2 separate regions of the Homo sapiens genome follow, and region 2 is linked to region 1. Evidence: fine-mapped expression QTL. A gene starts in region 1. The other region holds a variant in brackets. All regions are shown on one strand. Distances are from middle to middle. Region 1 holds the start of CLEC4F (C-type lectin domain family 4 member F). Region 2 overlaps VAX2 (ventral anterior homeobox 2).

Region 1 (4,384 bases):
TTCTGCTTTGTAAAGATAGACAAACAAATCAATGCGACAGAATGGAGAATACGGAAGTAGACCCCCACACATATGGACAATCGAATTTCAACAAAGGTGCAAAGGCAATTCACGGAGAAAGATAACTTTTTCAACAAATGGTGCTGGAACAATCAATTTCACACCATTATACAATAATTAACTCAAATGAGGCAGAGACCTAAATGTAAAACTAAAAACCGGGCTGGGCATGGTGGCTCACGCCTGTAATCCCAGCACTTTGGGAGGCTGAGGTGGGCAGATCACGAGGTCAGGGGATCGAGACCATCCTGGCTAACACGGTGAAACTCCGTCTCTACTAAAAATACAAAAAATTAGCCAGGCGTGGTGGCGGGCGCCTGTAGTCCTAGCTACTCCAGAGGCTGAGGCAGGAGAATGGCATGAACCTGGGAGGCAGAGCTTGCAGTGAGCCGAGATCACGCCACTGCACTCCAGCCTGGGTGACAGAGCGAGACTCCGTCAAAAAACAAAAACAAAAACTAAAACTAAAAACTGTACAATTTCCAGAAACAAAGGAGAACATCTTTGTAGCCTTGGATTAGGCAGATTTCTCACATACGAGATCATGAGAATAATCCATAACAGAAATAAAATGATAAATTAGACTATCAAAATTAAAATCTTGTTAGGAGAATGACAAGACAAGTCACAGACTGAGAGAAAAATATTTGCAAATCACATGACTAGCAAAGAACAAAGAGTACATACTCTATGATCTCTTATCTATAAAACTCTAGAAAAAGCAAACTAATCTATAGTTACAGCAAGTAGATCTGTGGCTGCCCAGGGATGAGGAGAGGAAGGGAGAGGAAGGAATTACAAAGAGCCACAAGGAAACTTTGGGGTGAGGAGGATGACTATGTGATGATGATTGTGGTGATGGTTTCAGGGGCACACACATATGTCAAAACTTAACAGATTGTATGCTTTAAATATATACACCATTAGACCTCAATAAAACTGTGTTTTTAAAAAATTATCTCTTTCTGTGAGGATGGTGGAGCCCATTCAGTGGTCAGAGGGTACCAGGAGAGAAGCTCATCCTAGGGTCTGAGCATCTGAAGGCCCCAGTTCCCTCTGCACCCCACCCCCACTGTGGCTACTCACTGTTGGGTTCAAAAGGTAAATGCCCAGTAATGTTGTCTCCCAGAATTACGGCTTGCACAGGCTTCGGAACAGGTCTTGTCTGCTGTTGAACTGAGACATTCCATTTTTCCAGGTCAGCAAATCCCCAGCCCTGAGCCTGGGAGGATACGCTGTCCCACACAGAGGTAGAGTTCCAGAACCGGGGAGATAGCAGCAAAGACCCTCCCAGGGTTTCCCTCATGAACCTCAGTTCTTGGGAGGCTCCCCCTTGGACAGTGGCCTTTATCTGTTCCCAGGGAAGCTGTGGCTTGGGCCTGGAGCTGGAGGTGGAATGATCTTTCTGGGAGCAGAGAGGCCCAGAGAGTGTGCATCTGGGGCCCCTGGGGACTTTGTGCTGAAAGGAGAGAAAGTTAGTGAGATTTGGGTCACCTGGGGGCTTACCCACTACAAAGAGAGTCACAAGAGAGAAGACCAAGGTCACAGCCATAAATGCCGGGGTAGCCTGAACGAGCCTCGGTATCTTGGGGGCTGCAGGAGCCATTGCCACAGAGTCCACCTCTGCAGGGGAGAAGGCAGTGTCCAAGGTGAGAGGGTGCTGTGCAAGGTAAGAGGGTGCTGTGCAGGCTGAGACACAGCCTCTCTGATTCTGTTTCCTGGGTTGTCTAATGGGGATGATAACTCCTGCCATGCTTATCATGCAGGTGGTTATGGAGAAGGAAGACAAAACACTTTGGGCTGTTCACCAGAGCTAGATGTGGATATGGTAGCAACACAGAGCTGAGGAGCTCTGAGACCGAGACCACCGATCTCCAAATCTCAAGGAGGCTTTGGTGGTGCACAGGGCACAGAACCTGGCACAGAGCACAGAGCAACAAAAGTGTAGTTTGAATGAAAGAAGAAAGGAAGGGAGGGAGGCCTCACAGGACCAGCTCAGTGTGCAGAGCCGGGATTCCAAGCCAGGACCATCTGAATTCAAAGTTCATCCCCTTTCTCTTGCCAGGTCTGCATCCCCAAGGACAAGGGTCTGGGGAGAGCAATAAGACAGCAATAAGCTGCCTTATGGCAGAGGGCCAAAGGACAGGCAGGCTACTCCCTCACTGGGCAAGAGCTGGGGCCCCAGTTTTCTCACCTTGGGGGTGCAGGGAGACACACTGGTTATCTGTGCAGAAGCGGACTGCCTCACCGTCCATCTCTGCTTCCTTGATCCTCCAGCACTGCTCCCAGCCACTGGCTCCTGGAAGGGCCGTCCCGTGGACCAATGGCAGTGGAAGCAAAGCTGAGACACCCACACTTATATGCTCCTGACCACCCTCCCAGCTCTTCCTCCCTCCCTGCCTGACTCTGCAGAAACCCGCCCCAGTGGGCCCCTCCCCTAGAGGCTCCCAGATACCCATCTGCCCTATTTTCTTCCTCTTCCCATTAGCACCTTCCCGTCAGTTCTCAGCCCCATCATCCCAGCCTCTGCCGCATCCAGCATAACCCCAAACACACCTCTTCTTCTCTGGGGGCTGGGACTGGCACCTAGGAAGGGGGTCTCAGCTTTGCACAGAAAACATCCTTATGACTATGGCTGACCTTTAATTCTAGCCTCAGAACCTCTTAAGTAAAAGGAGTCAGGTAAAAGAGGGGCCAGGTCAGTGCGGCCGATATTTGCAGGTCAAAGGAGGAAGCGGGGTGACCAGCCACTTGGGGACTCACAACTGAATTATAGTATACAGGAGGATGTGCGGAGGTTATATAAAAATACTACATGATTTTGTACAAGGGACTTGAGCATCTGTGGACTTTGGTACCCATGGGAGTCCTGAAACAAATCCCCTGCAGATACCAAGGGACAACTCTGTAAAAAATATATCTGGTCTTCATCTCAGTTCCTGACACAGAACTCCTAAAACGCTTAGAGTTTCCTGGGTGACAGGAGTGTTTTTTGTTATTCATAATAAGCCCCTTAGGACTACACTTGGGTTTATGCTAATGAGGTGACACAGGGTGGACCCTTAGATAATTTCAGGCTGGAGGCTGGTCCCAGAAAGACCAAACATGGGATTAGACTTTGGAAGACTGGGACTTTCAGCCACCCACTCCCATTCCCTACTCCCAGACCTCCAGGTATGGGAGATGGCCTGGGGTCTGGGCTATAACGACTCTTAAAAAATGAGATTCAAGGAGCTTAGGGATTGGTGATCCACATGCCAGGAGGGTGTCATGCCCTGACTCCACAGAGACAGAGTCTCCTGCACTTGGGACCCCACTGGGCCTTGCCCTGTGTACCTCTTCATCAGGCTGTTTTTGTCCTTTACAATAAAAGAATAGGAAGTACAGTGTTTTTCTGAGTTCTGTGAATTGTTCTAGTGAATTATGAAAACTGAGAGGTTGTTGCAGAAACCCCCTAATTTTTTGTTTGAGACAGGGTCTCCCTCTGTCACTCAGGCTGGAGTGCAGTGGTACGATCATAAGTCAATGCAGCCTTGAACTCCTGGACACAAGTGATCCTCAGTTCTCAGCCCCAACATCCCAGCCTCTGTCACATCCAGCATAACCCCAGCATAACTGGGACTACAGGTGTGTGCCAACATACCTGGCTAATTTTTTATTTTTATTTTTTTGTAGAGATGGGATCTCTTTTTATACCCCAGGCTGGTCTGGAACTCCTGGCTTCAAGTGATCCTCCCACCTCAGCCTCCCAAAGTGCTGGGACTACAGGCATGAGCCACCTTGCCTAGCCAGAACCCCCAAATTTGTAGTTGACCAGGCAGAAGTGGGGTCACTACCTCACTTGTAGCTAGCATCTGAAGGGGGGCAGTCTTGTGGGACTGAGGCCTTACCCTGTGAGATCTGTGCTAACTCTGGAAGTTAGTGTTAGAATCTGTTTGAATTGTTGGATGCCCAGCGGGTGTCAGAGAATCGGCTGGTGTCAGGAAAAAGCACACATTTGGTGTCAGAAGTGGTGTCAGAAAATACCAAGCAGGCCCCAACTTTAGCTGATTGGATCCATGCCTCCTGAGGTGACCAGGTTCTCAAGACTAACTCCAAAGAATCTGATGGAGCAGGCTGGGGCCAATGTGTGGCTTTCAATGAGCCCTATCCCTTCCAGGAGGAACAGATACTGCTTCAGGGGTTCCTGCTGCTGGGTGGGCCTAGCATTAGAAGAGAAGGCATGAGGCATCCCAGTGGACAGTGCCATGGAGCTGTGCAAACGTGATGTCCCTGTCCCTGCCACAGGGGTTACCAGCTGAACAGAACCAATATTCCCATGGCT
Region 2 (4,337 bases), 110 kb after region 1:
GTTAGAAAGAGCTCCCTCCAAAGGCAGCGTGGCGGCCAGCATGGATGCAGAGACCTCACCATCCCCAGACAGGCATCTGGCCCCTCCTCTGGTCATGCCCCTCCCTACGGAATGAGGACTCTGCAAAGCCAAGGGGTCTCGCCTGCCAGAAGCCTGTGCCCACCTTTGAGACCACCCATCCCTGCCAACAAAGTGTCCAGTTTCAGAATTCCCCGCCAAATGGCCCTGAGCCACATCCGGCACCTGCCTGGGCCTCTCCAGGGTCAGTCTTCCCAAGGGCAGACCACAGACATTATTCAGCACTCCAGGCCCAAGAAGCGGCCAATGGGGGGCTATTTGCAGACTGTGAACAGGCTGGGGCAGCCACACACGTGTGGGTCAGAGCCAGGGTGGGCCATGAGCCAGAGGCTTCCATTTTTTCTCTTGCCCCAGCCCTCTAGATGTTACAGTTTAGACCTGGGGCAGAGACACCTTTAAAACACTGGCTTCTTCACCTTGGAATCACCTGGTGAGCTTTAAAAACTACTAAAGTCTGGGTCCCAGGTTCCCCCGTTCTGAGTTTATTGGTCCAAGGTGAGAAGTGAGTTAGGGGCTTAAAGCTCCCCAGGTTCTCATGGGCAGCCAGGGTCGAGAGGTGCTGCTGTAGAGACAATGCCACGGTCCAGGTCAGAGAGAACAAAGGGAGAGAGGAGGGTCTGTTCTAGGCAGCTGGGAGACAGGCTCCTGCATGAGTGAGTGGAGGCAGCCATGATGGAAGAGGGAGCGTGGGAAGCCTCTGTTTGGAGGACAGAGCTGCACATGTGGGGTTTGGGGTGTTTTTTGAGATATCCATGGGGAGATGTCTAGCAGGCAGGTGGATACATGGCCTGGATCTCAGTTCAGATCTCTGGGCCTGAGGTAGAGTTGGAATTACCAGCACATAAATGGTGGCTGAGGCTGTGAACTTGACTTTGAGCCAAGGGCATGTGGGCCAAGAGGAGAACATCAGTTGTACTCCCAAACTCCATTCTCTGTCTGTCGATCCATTCCTCCATCCTAGGCCAGAGTCAGTTTAGTAGTAGAGGGGCCTCCATAATTTGGGGGACCAGAGTCCCTAATCAGTTCGCCTACAGCAGGATGGTTGTGGGGAGACCTTAACAACAATCTGCTCTTCTTTCCCTCTTGCTCCACCCTCACACCCCACCCCCACCCCCATCCACCACCTGCCCCAACCCCATGCCCTTCCTCTCCTTTCCTCCTCCCACCTGCCCCCACTTTGCTTTGCCTGTCCCATCTCCCTCCTTGACACCCCCTCCCCCACCCCAAGGTGAAGGTCTGGTTCCAGAACCGCCGCACCAAGCAGAAGAAAGACCAGAGCAGAGACCTGGAGAAGCGGGCGTCCTCCTCAGCCTCCGAGGCCTTTGCCACCTCCAACATTCTGCGGCTGCTGGAGCAGGGCCGGCTGCTCTCTGTGCCCAGGGCCCCTAGCCTCCTGGCGCTGACCCCTAGCCTGCCAGGCCTACCTGCCAGCCACAGGGGCACCTCCTTAGGTGACCCCAGGAACTCCTCCCCACGCCTCAACCCGCTGTCCTCGGCCTCAGCGTCCCCCCCACTGCCGCCCCCTCTGCCAGCTGTCTGCTTTTCCTCGGCCCCGCTCCTGGATCTGCCTGCCGGCTACGAACTGGGTTCCTCGGCCTTCGAGCCATACAGCTGGCTAGAACGGAAAGTGGGCAGCGCCAGCAGCTGCAAGAAAGCTAACACTTAAGACTCCCACCCTGTGACACTGAGTCCCGAGCACAGCACCTTCCCAGTCTCCTGTGCCCCAGCGGACAGCACTGAGCAGGCCCCGGAGAGGAGGGGCTGCAGCCACACACTCTTCCCCACCTGCCCCCCAGCTCAGAGACTCGTGACCAAATGGCCTTGGTCCCGCAGCTTGTGTGCGTGAGTGCAGTGTGAGTGTGTGTGTCTCTCACTGAAATAAAAGGAAAACAATGACAAGAAGGGAAATGGTGCCCACAGCACAACTACTTACCCCTCAATCCCTTCTATCCCTCTTGTCACTGGAAGGGAAAATGGGCTTAGAGTCAGAGGGACCTCAGATGGGAGAGGGCAGAAACTGGGATTCTGGGGGTCAGGGGACTCACATGTGTCGGTCAGCAGGCACCTGATTCCCACTCAATAGAAGCCCATGGCACCAACACGAATTCTTTGGTTAAATGTTGCCCTTTACAAGCTCTCTTTCAAACATAAAAATACTTGAGAGAGGGAAACATTGTCACCTTGAAGAGGGTGAATGGTGAAAGGGGAGACCAGGTTGAGAGAGAGGGAGAGAGAGCATCAAAGCTAAACACAAGCAAGAGTCCAGATGTTTAGAGACGGCCTACCCATCACAAACTGCAACATGAAACCCTTTAAAATATCTATACACAGCCTGGCCAACATGGGGAAACTCCATCTCTACTCAAAATACAAAAATTAGCTGGGCATGGTGGCGGGCGCCTGTAATCTCAGCCACTCAGGAGGCTGAAGCAGGAGAATCGCTTGAACCCAGGAGGTGGAGGCTGCAGTGAGCCAAGATCATGCCTCTGCATTTCAGCCTGACAACAGAGGGAGACTCTGACT[C/CAAAAAA]AAAAAAAAAAAAAAATATATATATATATATACACACACACACACACACACACACACATACATATTATATATATTTCATATTGCTCAAACAATATAAATTTTTTTAAAGTTAAATAAGAGTCTTGCTCAAGACTCTTTTATTTAACTTTTTATTTTGCAGTAATTATAGATTTACAGGAAGCTGCAGAGATAGGACAGAGAAGTTCCTTCCATTGGCAGGAACTCAATAGTATGAGACAGATAGGCTTCATCTTCCCTAACTATAGTACAATATCAAAACTAGGAAATTGGCATTGGTACCGTGTGTGTGCATAGTGCCATGTCATTTTATAGATTCATGGACTCACTGCTGCAATCCAGATGCAGACCTGTTCCATCACCACAGAGATCTTCCTCATGCTGCTCCTTGATGGTCACACCCACCCCCGCCCTCCACAGGAGAGTTCTTTGAAAGGATGGGCATTAGGAACCAGAGACCTGAAATGGGTCCTCAGGAGGGAGGATGCGGGGTAAGATTTTGACTCTGTGAAGAGAAATAACAAGCACAGTCTCCTCCAGTCTGCTCTGAGAAACATAGTAGCTGCTGCTTTGGTTTCAAATTGGCTGTCCTGAGTCACCTGGAGTGGGTGCTTGGGGACAGTGATCCCTAGGCAAATGTACTTCTGCCGTTCCCTCTGCTCAGTGGTATGGTTTGGGGAGGAGCTTAGAAATGCAGAAATCCTGAGCCTAGAATGAGGCATGGGGGTGACTAGAAGACCTTGGGTTGGGCAGGTCCAGCTACCACCCAGGGTCCACCCTGCCTTGCCCAGAGGAACTGTACCACACTCCACTCACCAGGAGAAACCACAACTCTTAGTTTCATGACATGAAGAGAGAGTTCTTGGGAAGCAGTGGTGAGGTCTTGGGTGGAACCCAGGCCAGGCTGTGCACATAGTTTGATTTATAACTCCAGGTATTTAGTTATACAATACAGGGACCTCCATTTTACTTTCTGACCTGGGCTGGAAAGGTCAGGGCAGGCCTGCTGTATAGAAATCTGGAGGTGAATGTGAGAAGATGAGACACGGTTCTATGATCAGATGGAGAGAGACCAGCCCTCATTCTCAAGAACTCTCAATAGTATGAGACAGACAGGCTTCAGGAGACCCAGGTCTGTGGGTTGAGACACAGGCTCAGCTTTTGGGGGCTCACAGCCCAGTGGCAGGGACAAGAGAGGCCTCTCCTAAAGGGCATGACTTAGGAAAGAGGCTAGATGTGTAGTAAATCTTGGCTGCTAGAGAATCCAGAGAAGGCTTCATGTAGGAGATGGCACTGAGGCTGACCAGGAAATAATTCTCTACAGATGTTCAAAAAGATGACGATGGAATTGTCAGGGGGCAGAAGTATCCAGGTATAGTCAGGGCAAGGAGTGCAGGGTAAGGTCAGGTTGCGAGAACAGTGAAGAAAGGGCAGCCTGCCAGAAGTTGGGTGTGGAGAGACCAGAAAGAGCTGTGGTGAGGGACGAGTGTGGGAATGTTGACAGCACCTGATGGTCCAGGGGAGGAATTGAATTCATACAGTTTGGGGTTGGCGGGGAGGAACCGCCTAGCACAGAAGAAGGAAAAAGCCAGCCCTCCCCTCTTCCCTTCTCCCTCCACATCCTCCAGCTCTCAGGTGACGGGGGCCCCTCCCAGACCTGCACAGCTTGGTGTGGGGAAAGCTTGGGAGCCAGAGCCCCAGGCTTCCTTGTTTACTGT

What was found. PIP is the estimated chance that this variant, and not a neighbour inherited with it, causes the effect.
Region 2: its variant is the best candidate, but not a certain one, in a credible set for the expression of CLEC4F in skeletal muscle (FUSION, PIP 0.60).

The regions. Positions count from the first base shown.
Region 1 is chr2:70,818,209-70,822,592 of GRCh38, forward strand. CLEC4F (C-type lectin domain family 4 member F) reads right to left here and starts at 2,391. Exons shown (of 7, transcript NM_173535.3): 1 at 2,255-2,391; 2 at 1,567-1,683; 3 at 1,147-1,236. The coding sequence starts at 2,315.
Region 2 is chr2:70,931,461-70,935,797 of GRCh38, forward strand. VAX2 (ventral anterior homeobox 2) reads left to right here. Exons shown (of 3, transcript NM_012476.3): 3 at 1,307-1,986. The coding sequence ends at 1,744. Among named protein-coding and RNA genes, the nearest start is that of ATP6V1B1, 2.3 kb to the right of the region's middle. The variant C/CAAAAAA (reference allele first, on the strand shown) is at 2,602.